Homo sapiens: one gene and its partner. The protein of the gene in region 1 interacts with the protein of each later gene in a pairwise test. Each region holds a gene or a part of one and is shown on either strand. Other genes may lie near its edges.

Region 1 (16,304 bases):
CTCCAATAGCAAATTTTTTTTTTTTTTTTTTTTTTTGAGACAGAGTCTCACTCTGTCACCCAGGCTGGAGTGCAGTGGCACGATCTCGGCTCACTGCAAACTTTGCCTCCCGGGTTCACGCCATTCTACTGCCTCAGCCTCCCGAGTAGCTGGGACTACAGGCGCCTGCCACCACACCCGGCTATTTTTTTGTATTTTTAGTAGAGACGGGGTTTCACCGTGTTAGCCAGGATGGTCTCGATCTCCTGACCTCGTGATCCGCCTGCCTCGGCCTCCCAAAGTGCTGGGATTATAGGCTTGAGCCACTGCGCCTGGCTTGAGATGAAGAATTCTTCCTGATTTGTTTGTTTTTGTTGCTATGGTGTGATATTGTGAAATACATATTTGGTCTTTGTCCCCATTTCCTGGTATACAACTCCTAAAATCCTTGGAATCTCCAAAGTGATGTATTTTTATGGTAATGAGTTGGCTGATGGCTGGCAGCTCCTAGTAGCATCAGGATAGGGCTGGTCACAGGAAACACCAAGGCCTAATTAAAAAGTTGAGACTTTACAGCCCCACTTCCCCAGTCTTGGGGGAAGGCAACAGGACTGGAGGCGAAGTTGATCACCAAAGGCCAACGATTTAATCAATCATGACTGTGTAATGCAGTTTCTCTAAAAACCCAACAGAACCAGGTTCAGAGTGTCCAGATAGCTGAACACATGAAGGTTCCTGAAGGGTGGAGGGCCCAGAGAGGTCAAGGAAGCACTGCACCCCTTCCCACATTTCTTATCCAATCCATCTGGTCGTCTGGTGTTCATCAGTATCCATGTAATATCCTTTATAATAAATCAGCAAATGTAAGTGTGTGTCTCCCTGAGTTCTGTGAGATGCTCTAGCAAAATAATTAAACCTAAGGAGGGGGTTGTGGGAACCTCAGTTTAGAGCCGCTTGGTCAGAAGCACAGGTAAAACAACCTGGGGCTTGTGAACTGGCATTATAAATGATGGGGGCAGTCTTGGAGTCTGAGCCCTCAACTCGTGGGATCTGATGCCATCTCCAGGTAGATAAGTGCAAGAATTGAATGAATTAGGGGACAGCCAACTGGTGTCTCCTGCAGAACTGACTGCTTGATTGGTGTGGTCACAGACGTCTTCTGTGTTGATTGTTGAGAGAGGCTCTAGGAGAAACTGAATTTGTTTTTTCCCTATATTCTCAGAATTGGTGTCAAAAATAGGACTTGGTGTTCACAGAAACATGTGGTTTGGGAAGAAAAAGGATAAAAGGGTGGGGGATGAGGAAGCTTTGATTCCTGGATGGCTCCATAAGCGTGGAGTAGCAGCTGTGCTGCAATAAGCTACCAAAGATAAAAGTTAGCAAAACACAGGGATGGATCTAACTTCCAGGGAGTTGGTTCACTGGGAGCATAAAGAAATGCAAGCTAGTCAGGCATGGTGGCATGCACTTGTAGTTCCAGCTACTAGGGAGTCTGAGGTGAGAGGACCTCTGGAGTCCAGGAGTTCAAGGCCGCAGTGAGCCATGCTCATGGCACTGCACTCCAGCCTGGGCAACAGAGTGAGACCTTGTCCGGAAAGAAAAAAGAAAAGAGGCCGGGCGTAGTGGCTCATGCCTGTAATCCCAGCACTTTGGGAGGCCGAGGCGGGCGGATCATGAGGTCAGGAGATCGACACCATCCTGGCTAACATGGTGAGACCCCGTCTCTACTAAAACTACAAAAAATTAGCCAGGTGTGGTGGCGGGCACCTGTAGTCCCACCTACTCAGGAGGCTGAGGCAGGAGAATCGCTTGAGCCCAAGAGGCAGAGGTTTCAGTGAACCAAGATCACGCCACTGCACTCCAGCCTGGTGACAGAGTGAGACTCCGTTTCAAAAAAAAAAAAGAAAAGAAAAAAGAAAAGAAAGAGACAGAGGAAAGGGGGGAGAAAAAAATGCAAGCTAATAAGAAAATGACAAATACTCATTTCCTAGGTAATTATTATCTGAAACAGCTAAAATGAAATTAAAAGAGAGTGCTGGCGGGGACCTTGATACTAAATCAAGCTCACATTTTAGTTGAGTCTGAGGTCTGGCCACCAGCCTCAAAGCTACTTCCAAAGGGAAAATTATTCAGGGACAACCGAAAGTACCTCTAAGGCCTGTGGTTACTAAGGTAGTCAATGTGGGGGAAAAGCAAAACCAAGAAACTACTGAAACCAGAAGGTATAGTGTGGAGGAATTGCTTCGTGTTGTGGATTGGCATCACCGGCTTCCTGAAGAACATTTACTAAAATGGATTGTGAGAGTAACTAATTTGGGGGCACTTTCTTTAGTTTTCAATGATGCCGGGTGGAAGAGCATTTTGAGTTGATGCCGAACCCACAGCTCACTATAGAACAATCACAGATGGTTGTATGGGATGCAGACACACAGCAGGTTATTCCCAATGGAATACAGCTTGCTGGACTGGATAAAAGCCACTGTAAGTTCTGCTTACCCTGTAAAGAGGAATTGTTCGATTCTCCCTAAAACCACCTTTGCAAAATTATAAGAGTAAGAGAAATCTGACGTAGTTGACTCCATCTTGCTTCTGACTTCCAAGCTGTCCTCAGTCATTCCTGGGTGTAGGCCAAGCTAATTTTGGGAAGAATTTAGTTTACAGTTTAACCTTAAAGCAAGGATGATAATGGGCCTTTCCAAAATTAAGCCACCTTTCTAAAACTAATGAAAGACTACCAGGTTAGGTTTATGAGATGGGCTTGAATTCTGCTAAGATGTAGGCATAGTTAAACGATAGCCAGGCATTGTTCTCAGGTCACATGATTTGTAACTTCCCCAATTACTCCTATAGCTAACATCACTATTATAGAACCTCAGATTGGTCTTTTGAGATATTTTTCAGACTTTTGCATTCTAGCAATTGACTAACCTCACCCAGAAGTGGACTTGTGACTCATGACCCAGCCTGTCCTGTGGCCCCACCCAAAGGTGGGCTCAGCATGCCCCAATGATTGTATCCCCCAGCAATCAGCAGCATCCATTTCCTAGCCCCTTGCCCACCAAACTATCCTTGAAAACCCCTAACCTCTAAACCTTCAGGGAGACTAATCTGAGTGATCACTCTGTCTCTCCAGGTGGCATGGCTGGCCTTGCATCGATAAATCTCTTTCTTTACTGCAGTGCCGCTGTCTCAGTGAATTGATTTTGTCTGGAGATTACAGGTCCTATAAATGCCAAGTGAAACACCCCGGATGAAGCAGCTCATATGCTTCATATGCGTGTGATGTGGAACTGGCTTTTTGATGACTGGGATGTTCACTTGCTGAAGAGGCCCATTACTCAGGTCATGGTAAATGCTGTGGTTAAGGGGCCCCTTTTAATGTGGATGCTCCATATAACTTTATTGATGAAAACCAAAAGACAGTTTAGGAAGTTTTATCCAAATTGCTCTCTTGGCTTCCCCTCATGGGTCTTACAGATGCTGATAAAAAACATTAGGTTAATTAATAAGAGACTGGGGAAAGGCAAAAGGGAGAGTCAAAGGGACTCATCTCAGTTGACCAAGAAAAAGCTGGCAGGTTTGTGGATGGCAGTTCCAAGGTGAATGAACAACATCCTATTTGGAAAGATGCCATTCTGATCCAAGAAGGTGAAAACATGGGCAGCTCTGTGGGCTGAATCCCATGCTATTTTCCTAGCAGCAGTGGAAGAATTGAAGGGTGGTCAAAGCCCCTGTGTGTGTGGTTTTCCTGACTCTCAGGCAGTGGCCAAGAGCCTGGCATGGGTATTGTGGTGATAAAGAATCAAGGAACTTCTACTTAACCAACTTTACTTCTGTTGGAGTAAAATCAGAAACTCCTTAAACACCCTCTGCACGATAGCAAAATTTAATGCTGAGTATTATCGATTCCTGTTAGAAGAGTGAAAAGTAACAGGTAGTTTTGGCAGCTCCTCTTTATTGATAGTTGCTTTGATCAGAATGATACGGTCAGCCTTCCATGTCTGTGTCTTCTGCATCCATGGATTCAGCCAATTGCAGATGGAAAATATCCAGGAAAAAAAAATTCTATAAAGTTCCCAAAAGCAAAACTGGAATTAGCGGCATGCTGAGTACTGTGCTGAATCCACACGAACGACGTGGTGTGTAGGCATCGTATTAGGTATTATGAGTGATCTGGAAGTGACTTAAAGCACAAGGAGGATGTGCATAGGTTCTATGCAAATATTACGCCCTTACATATCAGAGACTTGAGCGTTTGAGGATTTTGGTATCTGTAGGTGGTTCTGGAACAGACTCCCACAGATACGAAGGGATGACCGTATATGCTTTGGATTAAGTTGTGTGGTAAACTAATTCTTTTGTACATGGGGAAGTGGATTTAAAAAGAAAACAAGTTAATTCTTGACTTTCCTATTTATAAATGGGAATTTCTGGGGACTGGTTATCGACTGGAGTTTTTGGGGAATTTGAACGATGACTCACACTTTCAGTCTGGTGGGTTTTCTATTTTACTAGGAATCCTTGACAAAGGCTCTCTCTTCTGACCAAACTTTAGTCAGTCTCCTGAGTCCTTTCTGATTAGGCGCAGCCTTGGGCTCCTCTCTCTTCTTGTAGAATCCAGTTAGAGCAAGAACTTTGCCAAGTCAGTTGAGAGAAGGCCCTCATCTTTTGTATCTGATCCTTTTATCTTTTATCTGGTCACCCTGGCCTGCCTTCAGCAACAATAGTATCAAGTCATTTTAGCCAGAAGCCCCTTCTCCTTGATATTTCTTTTGATTTTTCATCCACTGACCCCCCCTTCTGCCCCTCTTGTTCCTTGATTATAAATTCCCACATGTCCTAATTGGACTTGGAGTTGAGTCCAGTCTCTCTCCCCCACTGCAAGACCTGTTGCAGGGGTCCCTATACATATTGTCATGGCCTCTTTGAATGGCCTTCTTTAACAAGTGTCATAAATTATATATATTTGAGATGGATTTTCGCTCTGTCACTAGGCTGGAGTGCAGTGGCGCAATCTCAGCTCACTGCAAGCTCCGCCTCCGGGTTCAAGTGATTCTCCTGCCTCAGCCTCCCAAGTAGCTGGGACTACAGGCATGCGCCACCACGCCCAGCTAATTTTTGTATTTTAATAGAGACAGGGTTTCACCATGTTAGCCAGGATGGTCTCAATCTCTTGACCTCGTGATCTGCCCACCTTGGCCTCCCAAAGTGCTGGGATTACAGGCGTGAGCCACCGCTCCTAGCCCATAAATAATTTTTTAACATGCTGTTTGGAGACATAGTAATTTTATTCAGCATCTTAGTTGGATATGAAGAACATGGAAGAAAGAGAAATCAAGTTAGTGGTGAGGAAAAGTTGTTCACATCTGATTGGGAATCCAGAATTTCAATCACCCAAACAGATGATAGAAGCTAAAAGAAGTTACAAGGTCATTGCATAGGAGGATTACTCTGATTCCTAGGAAACATGGGCTAGGATGCCTTATTTCAGTGGAGGTCATGAATTCCTGTTGCCATAGTCACTGTGAGAAAGGGCTTGGCCTTCTCACCTGTGATTCAGGTAGAATCATTCTGGAAGCATGTAATCAGTCCTCAAATTTTGTGTTCTGGTTTTGAATCTCTGACATATTCTGGTCCAAATTTTTTAACCCAGGTTCATTTGTCTCAATAGTTGGGTAGGTGCAGCTGGGCGCGGTGGCTCACACCTGTAATCCCAGCACTTTGGGAGGCCAAGGCGGGCAGATGACGAGGTCAGGAGATCGAGACCATCCTGGCTAACATGGTGAAACCCCGCCTCTACTAAAAATACAAAAAATTAGCCGGGCATGGTGGTGGGTGCCTGTAGTACCAGCAACTTGGGAGGCTGAGGCAGGAGATTGGCGTGAACCCGGAAGGCGGAGCTTGCAGTGAGCTGAGATTGTGCCACTGCACTCCAGCCTGGGTGACAGAGCAAGACTCCGCCTCAAAAAAAAAAAAAAAAGTTGGGTAGGTGATACACTTACTCTAACAAGATAAAAAAATAAGGAGAGAGATGATAAATAAATAAATCCGTGGTATTAGTACTACTGAATTAAGTTCAGGATCATCTGTTTGTGTTTTATCCGTGTTTGTTTTTTAACCCCTTTTAATGTTAAAAAGAATTCGATATACAATATTAGTCATGTGACTTTAAGTTTAAGGGTGAATAAAAACTAAGGTGACCTTGGAAGTAAGAAGGTGGCTACTCATCACTGTAGGCTTACCATCTGAGAAACCTCCATGGGAGGCCAGAATAACTTACTTCTTTTGCTTTTTTAAACTTAATTCCAGAAGACATCACATATGCATGACAAAGATAAAAGCACAAGTCTGCACCATTTCTGTGTTCTCAATAAATCTTATTGCCTAAAATATTAAGGAACGTTGAACTAAACATGTGTATTTTCTTTTAGCACATTAAAGATGCCATTCCATTGTCTTCTGGATTTATTGTTTCTGAAGTCAGCTGACAATCTTAAAAGGCAATGCATCTTTTCCCCGGCACCTTTTTTTTGTTTAATTAAATTAAATTAATTTTTTTTTTTTTGAGATGGAGTCTCAATCTGTTGCCCAGGCTGGAGTGCAATGGTGCAATCTTTGCTCACTGCAACCTGCATCTCCCAGGTTCCAGCGATTCTCCTGCCTCGGCCTTCCAAGTAGCTGGGATGACAGGCGCCCTCCACCACAGCCAGCTAAGTTTTGTATTTTTAGTAGAGACGGGGTTTCATCGTATTCGTCAAACTCATCTCGAACTCCTGACCTCAGGTGATCCACCTGCCTCAGCCTCCCAAAGTGCTGGGATTACTAGCGTGAGCCACCGTACCTGGCCCTGGCACCTTTTAAGATTTTATCTTTTTCCTTGGTTTTCAATGGTTCTACTAGAATGCACTGGGTGTGGCTGATTTTGTATTTATCCTGCTTAGGAGTCATAGAACTTACAGAATTTGTAATTTGATGTCTTTCATCAGTTTTGCGAAACTTGGACTCTTGGTTATTATCTTTTCAAATATTGTTTCTGCCCCTTTCTCTCTTTTTCTAGAAACCTGAATACCTGGTAGAACTTTTCATCATGTCCCATGTGTCTCTAATGCTTGTTTCTGTATTTTCCATTCTTTCCTTCTATGCTTCAGTTTGGATATTTTCTATTGATGTGCCTGCAGTTCACTAATCGTGTCTTTAGTTTTGTCTAACATCCAGAGTTCACAGCCTCATTTATTACACTTTTCACCTCTAGAGTTTTCATTTGATTTATTTTTATAGATTTCAATACTCAGGTGAAAATTTTCATCTTTTTTTCTGTTTTCTTGAAAATGTTCATCAGAGTTATTTTAATCAGGCAACTCCAATATCTGACTCATCTGTGGGTCTGTTTCTATTGTCTTTTTCTTTTTTTATCTAGTAACTTTTTAATGAGATGCCAAATATAGCTTCTAAAAAGTTGTAGAGGCTTCAAATGTTATCATTCTCTCAGGAGGGTTTTTCCCTTTCCTCCACAAAACCAAAGACAGGAGTGGCCAATAACCTTAATCCAATCAGGGACTGCATGGAGTGAAGGCTGGGCTGAGGTTCTGGTAGGGTTCAAGCTACCGTTGCCCTCCAGTTTCCAACTGGGAACATGGTGTAGGCTCTGCAGTAACCCACTTCCACCACCACCCTAGCAGATCTCAGACTCGAATCTTTGTTTTGCAAGTCTATCAAAAACTTCTGCTTTCAGAGGCCTTCCATTTACATTTCAGTTTCTTGCCCCATACAAGCCTTGAATTCAGCAATTGTCCTTGGAATTTCCCCCTACATCGCTGTGTTGGTTTTGTGTCCCCAGCAGTGGCCCTCTGTGGTCTCAAAGTCTAAATTCTCAGCCTCATGCTTGTATCCAGAACTGGCAAAAGCCCTCACACACCAATACAAGCCACTGCAGACATTAGCTCACCCCTTGAAGGTTCCTCATTCTCTGGAATATCAAGTCCCCCCATTCTTGCCTCAGCAGCTTTCACTGCCTTCAAACAGATGTTTTCTGACTTCGCTTTCTGGCTTTTCTAGTTGTTGTTAGTGGGAGCCTTGGTCTACTGCAAGCTGCTCCATCACACCTGAGCGTGGACATTCAATTTCCTGATGGTCTACTACGTAAATGTAAAAGTGAAACTATCTTTGTTACTCATCTCAGAGAAAGCCCTCAGAAAAAAATGTCAGAACAGTTTCTGTTGTCCTTCTACCTTGCTGCAATTGCTACTGAGCAATCAACGGGCTTTTTCCTGATGTGCTAGAAGCCAACACCATGGCACGGGCTTTTGAGAAAAGAAAGGCTTTATTGTGAGTTGACTGTCAAGGAGACATGAGGAAACCCTCAGCTCTGTCTCCTTGAGCTTGGGGCTGGGTTGGGTTTTATAAGCATAGGGTAATGACGCATGATCGGATTAGATTTTGCGATGAGGTGATGCTGGGATGCTCATCTGACTGGACCCTGCCATGGGGTGACACCAGGGCTTGATCTGATTGCATTCTGGATCTCACCATGCAGTGCCCATTTCTTAATTCAGTCCCTGCTTTGATCTGAGCACTCAGGTTCCGCCCCTGGTTGCATGCTTGGTTCACCTGGGCATCCTCAGGTTACGTGCGAAACCTTCCATCTGGGAGTCCATGCAACTGAAAAACAACTCACAACTTGGGTATATAAAAGGCGAATCAGATTGGTCTGGTGCGGTTATACAGTTATTAATATCCCTTTGTCAGAAGTCAAAATTACCACAAATTTAGATTAAAGATCTATTGGTTTTTATTGATTCATGAATCAGGATGGCATCTTCTCTGAAAATTTAGAAACGGTGCTCCAACGAGCTGGGCAGAGGAGGTGGGCTTTATAGGTAGAAAAGGGCTAAAGAAAGCAGCAACAGGGAACGAAAAACGGATTGGTCACTGCAAGGTTACAGGAGTCCCCTCTCGTCCACACACAGGTGGTGTGTCCCAAGACCCACAGTGGATGCCTGAAACCTCGGATAGTACTGCACCCCATTTTACATACACACACATATATATATACTATATATATACACACACTTCATTTTTCCTATACATACGTACATACCTACGATAAAGTTTAATTTATTAGGCACAGTAAGAGATTAACAGCAATAACTGATAATAAAATAGAAGCGTCACTGTTGAGCACAGCCTTGGGAATAGGACCTTGGAAGTAGGCAGAGCTCCCTAGGCCTTGTGGTCCCTAGTGGCCGTGGACAGCATGGGGGAGGAAATTCCCGGGAAGCAGCCTAATTTCACCCCAGGGAAGCCCCTGGTGGGCTTGTGGAGGGCGGGGTGAAAAGCCGCTGGTTTAGGGAAGGGGTCCAGCCTAGGCTGAGGAATGAGATGCGGGTTGGGACGGTCCCGACCCTTCCCCCAGCCTCTTTCAAGGATTCTGGAGAAACAAAGCCAGGATCCATTTCCTCTTGATGGCTGGCAAACTGAGCCCGGGCGGGAAGTCCTGGAAGACTGAGCCTGGGGTGGCGTTGGACACCAACTCCCAGGTCCTCGCCCCACACGGCCACATCCTCGCCCAGCCCCGCCTCCGCTTAGCTCCGCCCCGTCGCGGCTCCGCCCCGCGGTAACCACGCCCACACAACCGTATCCCCGCCCACAGCTGGCTTCGCCTTGGCCCCGCCCACAACCCTCTTTCCAAGCGGCGGCGGCGGCGGCGGCGCGAAGGCGACAGCGGCGGCGGGGGCGGGGCTGGCCTCACCCGGAATGAAAACAAACGGCGGCCGCTGCCGCATCCGGGCACTCTGCTGGTCGCGGCGGGAGTGGCGTGGCGCAGGTGAGGACACGGCGGCCGAGTGTCCTCGACCCCAGCCTCAGCAGCACTGCTTGGCGCCCCGGTTCCCGGTCCGACTGGGCACCTCTCCTGGCCAGGGGTGGAGCGGCCGCGGGGCGGGGGTGAGCAGCCATGCGTGGAGCTGGGCCGGGGCCGGGGCCGGGGCCGGGAGCGGTGGGCCGGGCTTCGGGACGCGCTGGCCGTTCGGGGCCCTTTGGTTTGCCCTGAGTTAGGCAGAGGTGTGGGGTATTTAAAAGAAAATATTGAGTGTATCGGTTTGGGGAGAGAAAGGAATAAATATGTCTATAAAAAATTAGCCAAATGCTATACTTGAATCGTAACACTCCGAGTATACCATTTGGGATTTATTTGCAATCAAAGCCAGATTTTCTTTGCTATTTAATGACAAGACACTTGATTTTCTCGAACCTTGACGACCTGATTCTATCATTCTCACCTCCTTCCCTTTTATTTTTAATCAAGAATCTTTCATTTTCCTAAGAAAAAATGAATGTGTCTTGACTAGATATAGTTGTGTTTCAACTATATATAATGTATACTTGAAAAGGTGTGGCTAAATGTAGCAATGATCGATTCATTACAAAAGTGAAAGTGAAATTTTTAAAGGATCGTTATAACGTTTCACTTTCTGCTTGGACCACGGAGTGATATTAATGAGTTTCGTCTTTTCTTAGTTACAATGTGAAACATTGTATGGCATGCATGAAACTTTTTCAGTTCTCATTTCAGTTAAAATTAAAAACTGACTTATTAAACTTGACTTAAAATATGTCGCCACTTACTCTGTTGTCTATAACTGAAGTTCCTTAAGTTTCAAGACAGTGGTTTAATTTTTTTTTAACATTAAATCTTATTCGGTGTAACCCTGGAGCTCTTGTTTGCTCCCTGGAGTGTCTGACACGCACTGGGTTTGTAACACTCCTTCGTCCTTCTGTCAAGTGGTGGCTTGGATGGCATCTTTTTAAAAATTTTTTATTTGTTTATTTTTTTAGTAGAGACGGGGTTTCACCATGTTGACCAGGCTGGTCTTGAACTCCTGACCTCAGGTGATCCACTGGCCTCGGCCTCCCAAGTGCTGGGATTACAGGTGTGAGCCACCGCGCCCGGCCTTGGATGGCATCTCTGAGTACCGCATCAGCCTTTCAAATTGCTTGGCTCCAGTAACCAGCCTGTGAAATTACTGTCCCCCAGTGGGGAGACAGTAGGGTTGCTGTGATATTTTATTCAGAATTTCTGAAGATTCATGAGTAGTATGTAAAGTAGTTTTTAAAGTTATTTGTGTTTGAAAAGCTAACGCTCTAAGTACTAATATGCTTTGCTGTGATAAGCCGTTTGTCAGTGCTTGAAAAATGGAGGATTCTCCCATGGGCCACCCAGGTTGCACACAGCAGCCTCATTGGCTGTGTTATTCCTTCCTCTCTTTTCTCCTCCCTGTCCTGATTAGCCTAATTCTTGTCCCCGCACTGACATAAAATAGATTTGAACTTTCTTTTAAAAAATATTTGTTTATGAAATACACAAGCTACCAAAGTTTTCAAAGATTTCAAAGTTGTGTGAATTGGGTTTGGGGGGATGTGGAATACTGGCCCTCAATAGAAGAAAGAAATTTATCTTGGTAATATTAACTCATATTTTTTCCACTCTCTAGAACTTGTCTTCATCATTCAGGGGCTAATAACATTTTTCTTTACTTATTGCTTGTCTGATTTGGGAAACCTTAAAGCGCTGTGCTACACCTGCCAGCTGCCTTACATCTCAGCCGCCTCACTCACCTTTGAATTGCTGTGCTAGTATGGGATGAGTAGACAGCTCCATCGCGGTACATACTTCTCTGGGAGAGAGAAGTTACATACCTGGAACAGGCAAGCAGCAAGGGACTCCATGACGGAAGTTCAGAGTCCAGTGTTGTGGGTGGAAGTTGTGCTCGTTAAGATGCTGCCTAATTTTGTGTCTTTGCCTGAGTCATGGTACAAACTCAGGGCCCTAATTTTCTCAGCTGTAAAATGATCCGATCAGTGTTAGATTTGAATAGTAGGGCCAGGCGCGGTGGCTCAGGCCTGTAATCCCAGCACTTTGGGAGGCCGAGGCGGGCGGATCACAAGGTCAGGAGATTGAGACCATCCTGGCCAACACGGTGAAACCCCATCTCTACTAAAAATACAAAAAATCAGCCGGGCGTGGTGGCGGGCGCCTGTAGTCCCAGCTACTGGGGAGGCTGAGGCAGGAGAATGGCGTGAACCCGGGAGGCGGAGCTTGCAGTGAGCCGAGATTGTACCACTGCACTCTAGCCTGGGCGACAGAGTGAGACTCCCTCTCAAAAAAAAAAAAAAAAAAAAAAAAAAAAAAAAAGTAGATGTGCTGTTAGGCTGTTAATCAGAAAATATGCAAAATTTTCCTAGTATTGTAATCTTTTTAATTTAAAAAATTCTGACATAGAAAATATTTATATATTTATTATTATTTTGAGACGGAGTCTCACTCTGTTGCCCAGGCTGGAGTGCAGTGGTGCCATCTCGGCTCACTACAACCTCTGCCTCCTGGATTCAAGCGATTCTCCTGCCTCAGTCTCCCGAGTAGCTGGGATTACAGGTACCTGCCACCACGCCCGGCTAATTGTTCATATATTTTTTTTTTTTTAGTAGAGATAGGGCTTCACCATGTTGACCAGGCTGGTCTCGAACTCCTGACCTCAGCTCCTGAACTCAGCCTCCCAAAGTGCTGGGGTTACAGGCCTGAGCCACCACACCCATCCGAAAATATTTATTATCGATAGTTTACAGTTCAAGCAAGCTTTTCTTTATATTTAACTACCAGGATGGTTGGCCTTTTGTTTTATGTTAAACTAGCCAAAGTATGAGAGAATTTACAAGCTCACGCCTGTAATCCCAGCGTTTTGAGACCAAGGTGGGTGGATCACTTGAGGTCAGGAATTCGAGACCAGCCTGGCCAACATGGCGAAACCCCGTCTCTACTAAAAATATGAAAATTAGCCGGGCGTGGTGGCGCATGCCTGTAATCCCAGTGAGTAGGGAGGCTGATGCAGGGGAATTGCTTGAACCCAGGGGGCGGAGCTTGCAGTGAGCCGAGATCGCACCACTGCACTCCAGCCTGGGCGACAGAGCGAGACTCCGTCTCAAAAAAGAAAAAAAGAAGTTCACGACTCGAGGGATTTATCTTTCTCTTATTTTCTCTTTTCTCTTAGATAAGAGAATAGCAGATTAAGAAATAGAAACATGTAATAATCCTTGCTACATATTAGCAACTTTGAAATACATATTTTATATATGTAATATATATAATTGAACATATATTTCTATATATATTTTTAGAGAAGTCTGGAGCTCATTTAAACCATAGTAATTTATATTTAATGACAGAGGAAGGGAGCTTTGCTTACCCAACAAAGCACCTTAACATGTAGGTAAGTTATTAACATTTTAAAATGCGATGTGGAGTTTTATTAATGTATTGTTTTGCTTTCAGGGATGGCACAAAAGAAATATCTTCAAGCAAAATTGACCCAGTTTTTAAGGGAAGACAGGATTCAACTTTGGAAACCTCCATATACAGATGAAAATAAAAAAGTTGGTTTGGCATTAAAGGTATTTTTCTTTTAAGACATCAATAATTAGCAGCATTATAAATCTCCTTGGTAAATAAGATTCTGAATTGTCAGGCATGACCATATAAACTTTTGGCATAACCAAAAGCATTAGTGGTGAGCGGGTACCCACTTTTTACTAGGAACTGACAACCTTATTTTTGTTCATTAATATTTTATTCACATGAGGATGTTATCTAATTTTTCAGGCATATATTTTTAATACCATCACAGGATTACATAACATTATTTATCTGGAACTCATTTTGACCCATTAGTGGAACAGTATTGGTGCCAGTAAGTAATTGCATTGTGTGTTCAAAGTGACAGTGTCTTGGCTCATTCTCGGTCCTCCTTGCTATCATCATCTGCTGTGAAACAATTGCTCCTTTTTCCCCCAGTTTTTTTGATGCTCTCACTATCAGTGTTCATTTTTCCAAAATAGGTTTTTTCTAACAGTTGTATCTCAGTTTTTCATGGCATCATCAGAAATGATATTGTATGTAAGTGATGTTTCTAGAAACTGAAGTCTGCTTGCTTTTCTAAGCAGAGAAACAGTACTCATTTTTGCCAGAAATCTATCATACTGGAATTTCCTAGCATGTACTTCTCTGCTCTCATTCAGAGTATCCTGAACATGATGTAACATTTATCAGGGACTAAGGATTGTCATGAGGCATTAAATTGCTCTGTGTTGTGACATAATGATGTGCTTGGGAGGTGACAAACTGTATTAGGGTCCTAGTTCTTCTGTTTCTTCTGTTCCAGGCAGGCCTCACTTTTTCTTTGCAACCCACCTTCTGACCTTGCTTCTGAATTTATTGTTACAGTCTCTTGGTTTAGAAACTAGGTGTGGCATAAAGGAAAAATATTTGACCTTTGTCCCTGGTTCCTGGCAGAGCCAAAACTCTTGGGATTTCCTAAGTGGTAAGCATGATAGGAGCAACCTTTGTGCTCATGAGGCTTGGTTGCCCCTAGATAGCTTCAGGATGGGGCTGGTCACCAAAAGTACCAAGCCGTGATTAGACACTTGAAACTTTCCACCCTCCCCTCCAACCTCTGGGAAGGGGAGATTGAGCTGATGACTAATACTAATGGTCAGTGATTTAATCAGGCCTGCATAATGAAACTTCCATACAAACCCCTAAGTGACAGATTTTGGACAGCTTCCAAATTGGTGAACACATCCACATGTCGGGATGTACACCCCCAACTCCATGGGACAGAGGCTTCTATGCTCAGGACCCTTCCAGACCTTGCCTTAGTACCTCTTCATGTGAATGGTTATTTGTATCCTTTGTAATGAACTATATTCATAAGTATACCATTTTCTGGAGTTCTGTGAGTTGTTCTAGCAAATCATGGAACCTGAAGGGGGTGCTTGTGTGAACCCTCGACTTTGTAGCTAAGTCAGACAAAAGTATGGGTAACCTGGGGACCAGATACTTGGTAACTGGTATCTGAAGTTAGGGCTTTTTTGTGGGCTGAGCCCTTAAACCTGTGGAGTCTAACGCTAACTCTGGGTAGTTAGTGTCAGAATTGAATCGTAGGACTTCCAGTTGGTGTCAGAATTGGCTGGTGACAGGAGGAAGAAAGAAATCCTCACTAGTTAGGTTTTCTAGAAAATTATAGAAAGTTTTTAAAAAAGTATTTATAATATATATTCTAGGTTTTAAAAAGTATGTATATAAATACAAAAATATAAAGAATGTATTTTTAAAATATGTTAAACATCGTTAACATAGGTATATTCTTCCTCTTTTCCTACGTAACTATTAAAAAAATGTATTGCTGGACACAGTGGCGCATGCCTGTAGTCCCAGCTACTCAGGAGGCTAAGGCAGGAGGATCACTTGAACCCGGGAGTTGGAGACTGTAGTATGCTATGGTCCCACCTGTGAATAGCCACTGCACTCCAGCCTGGGCAACGTAGTGAGACCCCGTCTCTAAAAGAAAAAAAAAGTATATATAGGTTTATGTTACTTACAAAATTTTTTTTCCTTTTTTTTTGAGACAAGGTCTTGATCTGTTGCCCAGGCTGGAGTGCAATGGCATGGCCATAGTTCATTGCAGCCTCACACTCCTGGGCTCAAGTGATTCTCCCACCTCAGCCTTGGGAGTAGCTGGGACTACAGGTGCATGCCACCATGCCTGGCTAATATATTTTTAGTTTTTGTAGAGACGGGGTTTCACTTTGTTGCCCAGGTTGGTCTTGAAGTCCTGGGCTTGAGCAATCCTCTCACCTTGCCTTCCAAAGTGCTGGGATTACAGGCATGAGCCATCGCGCCCAATCTATACTCATATCTATAAAGTTTTCCAACTTCACTTTTATCATGAACATCTCTTCTGTCATAAATTTATGCTTACACCATAATTTTTACGTACTACATGGTATTACATTATGAATTTAATGAAACCTTGACCTTTAGGGTTTTTTGAAGTGTTTACTGTTTTATGAGATGTTTAATGAAACATTAACCTCACATGCAGATACAGATTGAGAGGAGTATCCCGTAACTGAAATATTTGGGACTGGAAGTGTGTTTGGATTTTGGAATGTTTGCTTTATACCTACTAGTTGGGCATCCTAATCTGAAAATTCAAAATTCAAAATACTTCAGTGTGCATTTCCTTTGAGCATCTCCAGATGCTGAATTTTGGCGATTTCAGATTTTTAGATTAGAGATACTCATCTGGATTTTTTTGGGGAGGAACCATAATGACTTTGCTCTCAGTAATAACTGGTTCCCATCCTTTCTTGAGCCCTTTCAATCTTCTTTTTTTTCTCAATTCTAAAGCTCTCCCTTACAAATAGTTTTACAACTAGTACCCATGATTCACAGATTTTCATTAAGAGAATTGTTTAAGTCCAACTTGATTTGT
Region 2 (7,000 bases), on another chromosome or scaffold:
AATGGCTTTACTTATATGTCTGGCAGTTATCAGACTGTTGGCCAGGGTAACATAACGAGTGGCTGGGATGTACCTCCCATTCTCCAGCACACTCCCCTTGGCTTCTTTACATGGCAAATCAAATAGTGTTGTAAGAGCAGTAAAAGAACAACCTGCAATGCAAAAGCAACTTTAAAACCTCACCTTGAATCACATTAGCTACTCTCCCATTAGCCATGTCAAGTCAGAAGGTTACCCCAGATTCAAGGGGTATAGAAAGAGTCCACTTATGATGAGAAGGAGCTGCAAAAAATTAGAGCCAGTTTTTGTGATCTACTACATTTTTGAGGATACTTGTGTCTAGCAGATGTTTTCTGCTGAAAATAATATGTTAGGAGAGCATATTGGAGCCTGCTTAGCAATAGCCCAGGATTTAGGTTAAGTAATTGTCCAGTAAATCATTGTCCTGCAATTTTTTTTCTATAAACCCCAGGTAGAGGAAGTATGACACAATGATAATAAAATTTTAGTCATATCCTTCTGACAGTGGTGTTGGGATGGTTTGGAGACAGGAGGCTGGTGGCAGGGTGAGCTGAGCATTGTTGAAAGTTGATGTTTTTGAGAAAAATGGAGGCAGGAAAATTGGAAAGGGGTCGATCTGGGAGATCCCATATTTAGGATGAGGTGACTGATTATAGGGGGTTAGTAAAAGTAAAAAGTCGAAAGCATTCTGAGATTTAAAAATACTTAAGTGACTAAAAGAATGATTGTGCTTTTGTAAGAAATAGAAAAATCAATAAGGGATTTATTTGGGGGAGGAGAAAAATTCAGTTCCAGAAATGTTGATTAAAAGAGATAAATTGAATGTCAAAGTACTTTATAAGCTGCAGAGTAGGCTATGAATGTTAGCTATTGTTTAGTGTTTAAATCACAGTGCACTATTGTATATAGTTAAGTTTCTTTATGTGTATATCAACAGAAAACAAAATACAACCTCAGGGATTCCCTAAGATGTCAAAGGGAAGTCAGAACCACTACTCTCAGGATGGAAGGTCTACTCTTAGAATGCTCTTCCCTTAAACTAAGCATACCAGGCAAGAGAACACCTTTGACTTAATTTGAGTGGCATCCACACTCCTGAGCCAGTAGCACTGACTGACAGCCACACCAGGTCAGCACACAATGCAAAGTGGGTGGGTTCACCCTTAAAGGACACTGGAGCACTGCTGTCAGAAGTGGAGATGGAAATAGGGTGACAAGACCAACAAATGCTCACCACAGATGAACACTTGAAGATTTATTTCGGCCTAGACGTGGGGAAGCAAGAGGTAAGAAGGCAGGAGGTGACAACTTAGGCATATGTCCATAGAGTGTAGATGCATGAATAATAGTTGAACCCATGCTTGTGGTGGAGTTTTCTCGTGGAAAATAAAGAAAAGACGGTCTGGCACAATGCCTCATCCAGACTCCTTCATTAACGTTAATGGATGTTTAATAGAAGGGAGAAGAATTCTAAACATGTTCTGTTCTGCCTTTCACCTAAAAGCTCATGCAAGGTGCTGTTTCTTCAGCCTCATTTTATGGCCAGACTGAAATTCAGGTGGTGCCCTTACCGCAAAGTGCAGCTGCTGGGCCAGACAGAAACACCTGGCCTCTCCAGCTTCACACAATTAGTCTGAACAGCATACACAGCTGCTCTTTATGGAACGACCTTGGATGGACCAGCTCAAACCAAAGAATACGTTTTTATCATTTTTATTGCACAAGTCTAAAACCCCTGAAGACACTCAATAAATGTTAATTGAACGAGTGGATGTGCCATTATCTCGTGCAGTAACGTTTTTTTAAAATGATCTGGTCTGGCTTTTCATTATAAGTGTAGAGTTTGCTATAAAGTCCCTAAGTGCCTTTTGTAGACTTAAATGTTTTAAGGTACTCTTGTCACAGTAATGTAGGTTTTTTAAATCCACCACTCATAAAAATAAACTATTTTTCCTTTATTGAGACACAGTTGTCTTTCATCCTTGTGTTTGTCAGGACACTTGGTTGCAAATCACAGAAACCCAGTTTATACTTGCTCAAGTAGGAAAGGGCATATACTGGCTACTGTAAAGGAAAAGTTCAGAAAGAATCCAATTCTGATTTCTTCTTTTCTTCATGGTGGCAAAATTTTCATCTGCAGCTTTAGGCTTAACTCCTGAGAAAAAGAGAATTCAGGATTAACTTTAATTAGACCACTTTGATCACATGCATATGCTTGAACCAGACCCTATGGCCGGAGATTTGGACCATGCCACTTGACTCAGCTTTGATTATGAGCCCAGTCCTGGAGGCTTTTGGAAGGGGAGAGTGGTATGTGTGACGGCAGGTGGGAAGGAGTGTATGGGAGTGAAGGAAGTACATGGGAGACTAGTCAGCAAAACTCTTCTAAACCATATAACCTGAGAGCAGGGAAGGGGTAGTTTTTAAAAGGAAATATTGAAAAGAAGAGATAGGAGATGCTGTGCGTGCAGAAACAGCAGATATCTATTAAATACTATAACACCTGTTTTCCCTGACAGGCATATCATCCTCTCACTACACCTCCAAGCCAGAGACCTGGGAATGATCTCGATCTGACCTTCTCCCTTTCTTCCTCCACCTAATCAGTCACCAAGACCTCCTGCTCCACTTCCTTTCATGTTTCACTCTTCCCAAGTCACCTCTACAAATGCTGCCTTCAGTCTCTCAGCTTTCAATCCATCCTCCTCACCGCTGCCTGCTTGCTCTTTCTAAAGAATAGATAAAATTGAATTATATAACTCCCTGCTAAGAACCATTCCAAACCTTGTCATAGTCCTGGAGAAAAGTACAGGCTCCTACCATGAATTCCAAGATTCTCTCTGAGGTGAGTCCTGCCTCCTCCTGTGGGTGCAGGGGATGGGTAGGTGCTGGTATGTTCAGCAACGCCTTCTTCTAGCTGCCCATATTATCCCCATGCTTAAATGCTTCATTGCATGTGCTTTTACATGGGCTGTTGTCTCTGTGGAATATTGTTTCTTCTTTCTCAAACTATGAACTATTAAACATTTACTTATCCTTCCAAACTCATCTCAAGTGTTGCTTTTTCAAGAAGCCCCTGCTGAACATCCCCTCCCAGCCTCTCCCCACATCACACTTTATCCTGTGGTACGTATGGCGTTGGATATACATGTGTGTCTCCCTCTGTAGACTAAATGTCTTGAGAGCTGGACTTACTTCCTTATCTTTGCACATCCTGTGCTCAGTACAGTGCCTTGCCCACCATGTATCTCAAAAATTTTTAAATAAATGAGAGAAAAATGTGTGTTGAATCATTCATCTTTCATTTTTTCAGGTGACTTTCTTTAGGTATATTCTATTTCCTTTAAATTGATTTTCACATTTGCCTCTTAGGATACTGGGACATGAAGACAGATTCTCTTTGAAGCTGCTGCTCAGACACTTTTTCAACAGTTTTCTCAATGGTTTATATACTTACTTATTACTTGGTCACTAATAACAACCTTAAGGAGGAGGCTGGAAAATATCAGTGACCCAGAGTAAATCTCCAGGCTAAAATCTATGGGTCAGAGACCAGATAAGGAATCCTTTTCCCCCTATCATCAGAGAGGATATTTAATAATTAATATTTATGAGGCACTCTGTTTTGAGTACTTAAAAGATGCCTTACAATTACTTTCTTATTTAGTTCTCACAGCAGCCCTAGGTAGGAGGCGTCACTGTTATCATCTTTTTTTTTTTTTTTTTTTTTTAACAGATGAGGAAACAAAGATTTAGAGATTTGAAGCAGTTTGTCTGCCACTAAGCTCCTTCCTCCTGGCGACTGCCAAGTGGCCAGACACTCACCTGAGTTGTTGAGGAGTAGAATAAAGCTTTGATTGGGCTCTTCCCATTCATCTGTTATTTTTTGTTGTTGTTGTTTTTATTCTAAGATGAGTAACCATCATCTTGAGAATAAAACATTATAGCTGCCTTCTTTGGTCATCAATCCTATAAAAAAAAAAACTATGGAAAAAGGTGTATTTAAAGAGGTAAGGGCTCCAGTACTATTGTTGAAATTAAGATCAGTTTCTTACTTATAAATTCCAGTCATCTTCCTGTGATACTGCTGCTGCCAGAAAATAAAAGCGTCTTATGGAAGGAAGTTGTACTGCTGCATATAAAATGCAGGCCTCTTGAGGAGGCACAGAAAAGCTTGGTTTTGAGAGTCATTCACAGAGCTATTCCATAGATAAATAGAAGGAGCTAAACACTTTGGAAGCCACAGAAACTCAATAGTTCTTAAACTGTTTTCAGTCTGAGAGTCTTAAGAGCATCATATGAAAGCTATGGATTCTTTCCTTGAAGAGAAAAGATGTCCACACATACCCCGCTTTGTATTTAATTTTAGGGATTTCAAGGATCCATTGAATCTCGTCTGTGGATTTCCTGGGACTCCTTGGACTCCAGGTTAAAAAATCTGTTTTAAAAGCTGATGCAGAAGGAAGATATTAGCCATTGTTGAATGTTTACTGTGTTTGACATGTAACCATTTATTCAGTGTTTACCGGATGCCAGCCCTTTTTGAAAGGTACATTATAGCTAAGCCATGCATTATGAGTCCAGTTTTAAGCCATGGAGGAGAACGAGGTTCAGAGAGGGAACTCACAGTCTCCCACTGGGAAAGTACTGAGAATAGAATTAAACACAGAACCCAGGTTTGTATCACCACTACTTCATGCTGCTTCCGCACTCATTCATGCAACCAAATGAAGCTTAAGACTTGTGCCACTGAAATTTGGATCCTCTGTTGGTCCTGACTTCCCTCAGCCTTCAGCTTCTCTTGTTAAAAGTAAGTTAAGTGGCTGCTTCTGCCACAAGAGCTTCCTGGAATGTGTCCAGTGCAAGAGCAGTCAAGGGCTGGGAAGGTCTCACCTCACTCTCCTCCTTCACCTGTGACAATGTTTTCACAGTGGGACAGATAACATCATTAGAGTGACAGCACTACTGGTTTGATCATCTCTAGGTAAGTTTCTACTTCTTACTCATTTCCGAGTACAGTTTGCACACTTGGAAACTTTAACTTAACAGATGCTCAACAGCAAAAATGACTGCAAATTCTCCATGTGACCCCTCTTCCACAGTATTTATTGAGGCCTGTATTCTGGGCTCTGTCCTCTAAGTTGCGGTCACAGCAGTGAGCAGACAGATGTGGGTCCTGAGCTCATGGTATTTATAGCTAGCTTATATCTAGCTAGGAAGGGGGCTAATAAATAATCGAAATAAAGCGTGGTAAGTGTTATGAAAAAGGAAGTATCAAGAATTTATTCTATTCAAGTTTCTTCATTCTTTTCAGCTTAAAAACTCTGATCACAAAACATTGTATGTTTCTCCAGCCCTTTCTTCCCCCAGGATGTTTAGAGTGCTTCAGGTTTCCGAAAACTTAGTTGACAGAGTCAGGGGGATATGCAGGCCAAGCAGTTAATCTCAGTCCCCGCTTTGCAGATGAGAAGGCAACAGTGACCAAATGACTTAACCACAGATGGAGTGAAGACAGGGGTAACTGCTTGGTCTGGTCCCCAGTAGAGCATTGCTCACTATAAACCACAAGCTGCTTCTAATTTATTTGAGATGTTATTATCGTGGCCTTTATATTCTGGTCTCTCTTGCTGCAAATGAGTCCGGCAGGCAAGCACAACTCAGAAAGCAAATTCACCTTCTTTGTAGCCCTTGATGGGTCGGTCCCCCTGTTGTCTCTTTCTCATTCCATAGGCATTTCCCCCACTCACCCTCTTGCCCTGAGACCGCCTCCCCAGATTTTCTCCTGAAGCATTGTCTTGTGACTGCACCAACCTACACTGGCAGATAGAAATGTAATAGGATCCATGAATGGGAGCCATGCAGGCAATTTCATATTTTATAGCAGGCGCGCTTAAAAAAGTAAAAGGGAACAGGTGACATCAATTTTAATAATATATCTTACCCAATATAGCCAAAATGGTAGCATTTCCATATGTAATCCATATAAAAAATCATTAACCAAGTACCTTACATTCTTTTTTTCCCATATTACATCTTTGAAATTTGGTGTATGTTTTTTACTTACCTCAATTCAGAATGGCCACATTCCAATGTGGCCACAGGTGGCTGGTGACCCCTGCAGTGGACTTCAGGCTTGGACTCTGAGGAGACCCTGGGATGCCTAAGACAGACTTAGTGACCACCTCCTCAGCCTCCCTCGACACTTAGCTCAGATCTTTATTGCTGCTCCAATAGAAGGTTCACAAGGTTGTTTTCTCAAACCTGGGTTCTTGAGGGAAGGGAATATGTCTTTGTCATCTTTCTATCTCTCATGTAGAGTGCAGTGTTTAGAAAGCCCACCATTGGCAGTGGGTACATGGTGAATCATTAATGAACAAAGGAGGGATAACTGTAACTCCAGGAGTTGAAGGGCTTGGTATATGGAGGCTTACCTGTCCAACCCCTGCTCCCTGGCTCTGTTCCCCCATCGCAGGGGCTCCTGTTTCAATCTCCCATCTTTGTCCAGTGCTGCAGAACCACATTGGAGTCAGATTGAATGGACAGGAGGCATCTCCAGTCACACATCTAGGCTTCTAACCTAGAATTGTATTGAGACTGTATACACCTTGTTTAGTTTTTGTTTCACCTCTTTTAATACCAAATACTAGAAGAACTTATAAGCAGTCTAGTATGTGAAATCATAAGTCTTATTCAACAACATGGAAAAAAAAAACAAAAAAACAGGACAGACCAAACACAAAAACAAAAACTCGTCCAGTGAACAAGCCTCCTGTTGAGATTGCAAACAAGGCCAACTGACATATATAGAACATTAAATATACAAGAGAAGAGTAGCCTGCATCAGGGAGCTGTTAGAGTCATCACGATGAACTTTCTGTTTCCAGTGGTTTTAGAGTCATCACTACTCCCTCTGAGAGAACTGGAGATTTATATCCTATGTCAATTTGCCTTTGCACATGCAGTATTTAAATTTTGCAAG

The links.
Region 2: the proteins of NUB1 (region 1) and SNCAIP interact in a two-hybrid assay, tested with the Homo sapiens proteins (2 studies listed by BioGRID).

What each region holds. Positions count from the first base shown.
Region 1 is NC_000007.14:151,332,045-151,348,348, forward strand, and holds the start of NUB1 (NEDD8 ultimate buster 1), read left to right. Parts: upstream 1-9,767; 5' UTR 9,768-9,802; exon of another isoform or gene 9,803-9,921; intron 9,922-13,303; 5' UTR 13,304-13,305; coding exon 13,306-13,422; intron 13,423-16,304. UniProt on the Homo sapiens protein: Specific down-regulator of the NEDD8 conjugation system. Recruits NEDD8, UBD, and their conjugates to the proteasome for degradation. Isoform 1 promotes the degradation of NEDD8 more efficiently than isoform 2.
Region 2 is NC_000005.10:122,315,237-122,322,236, forward strand, and holds part of SNCAIP (synphilin-1), read left to right. Parts: intron 1-6,054; exon of another isoform or gene 6,055-6,598; intron 6,599-7,000. UniProt on the Homo sapiens protein: Isoform 2 inhibits the ubiquitin ligase activity of SIAH1 and inhibits proteasomal degradation of target proteins. Isoform 2 inhibits autoubiquitination and proteasomal degradation of SIAH1, and thereby increases cellular levels of SIAH.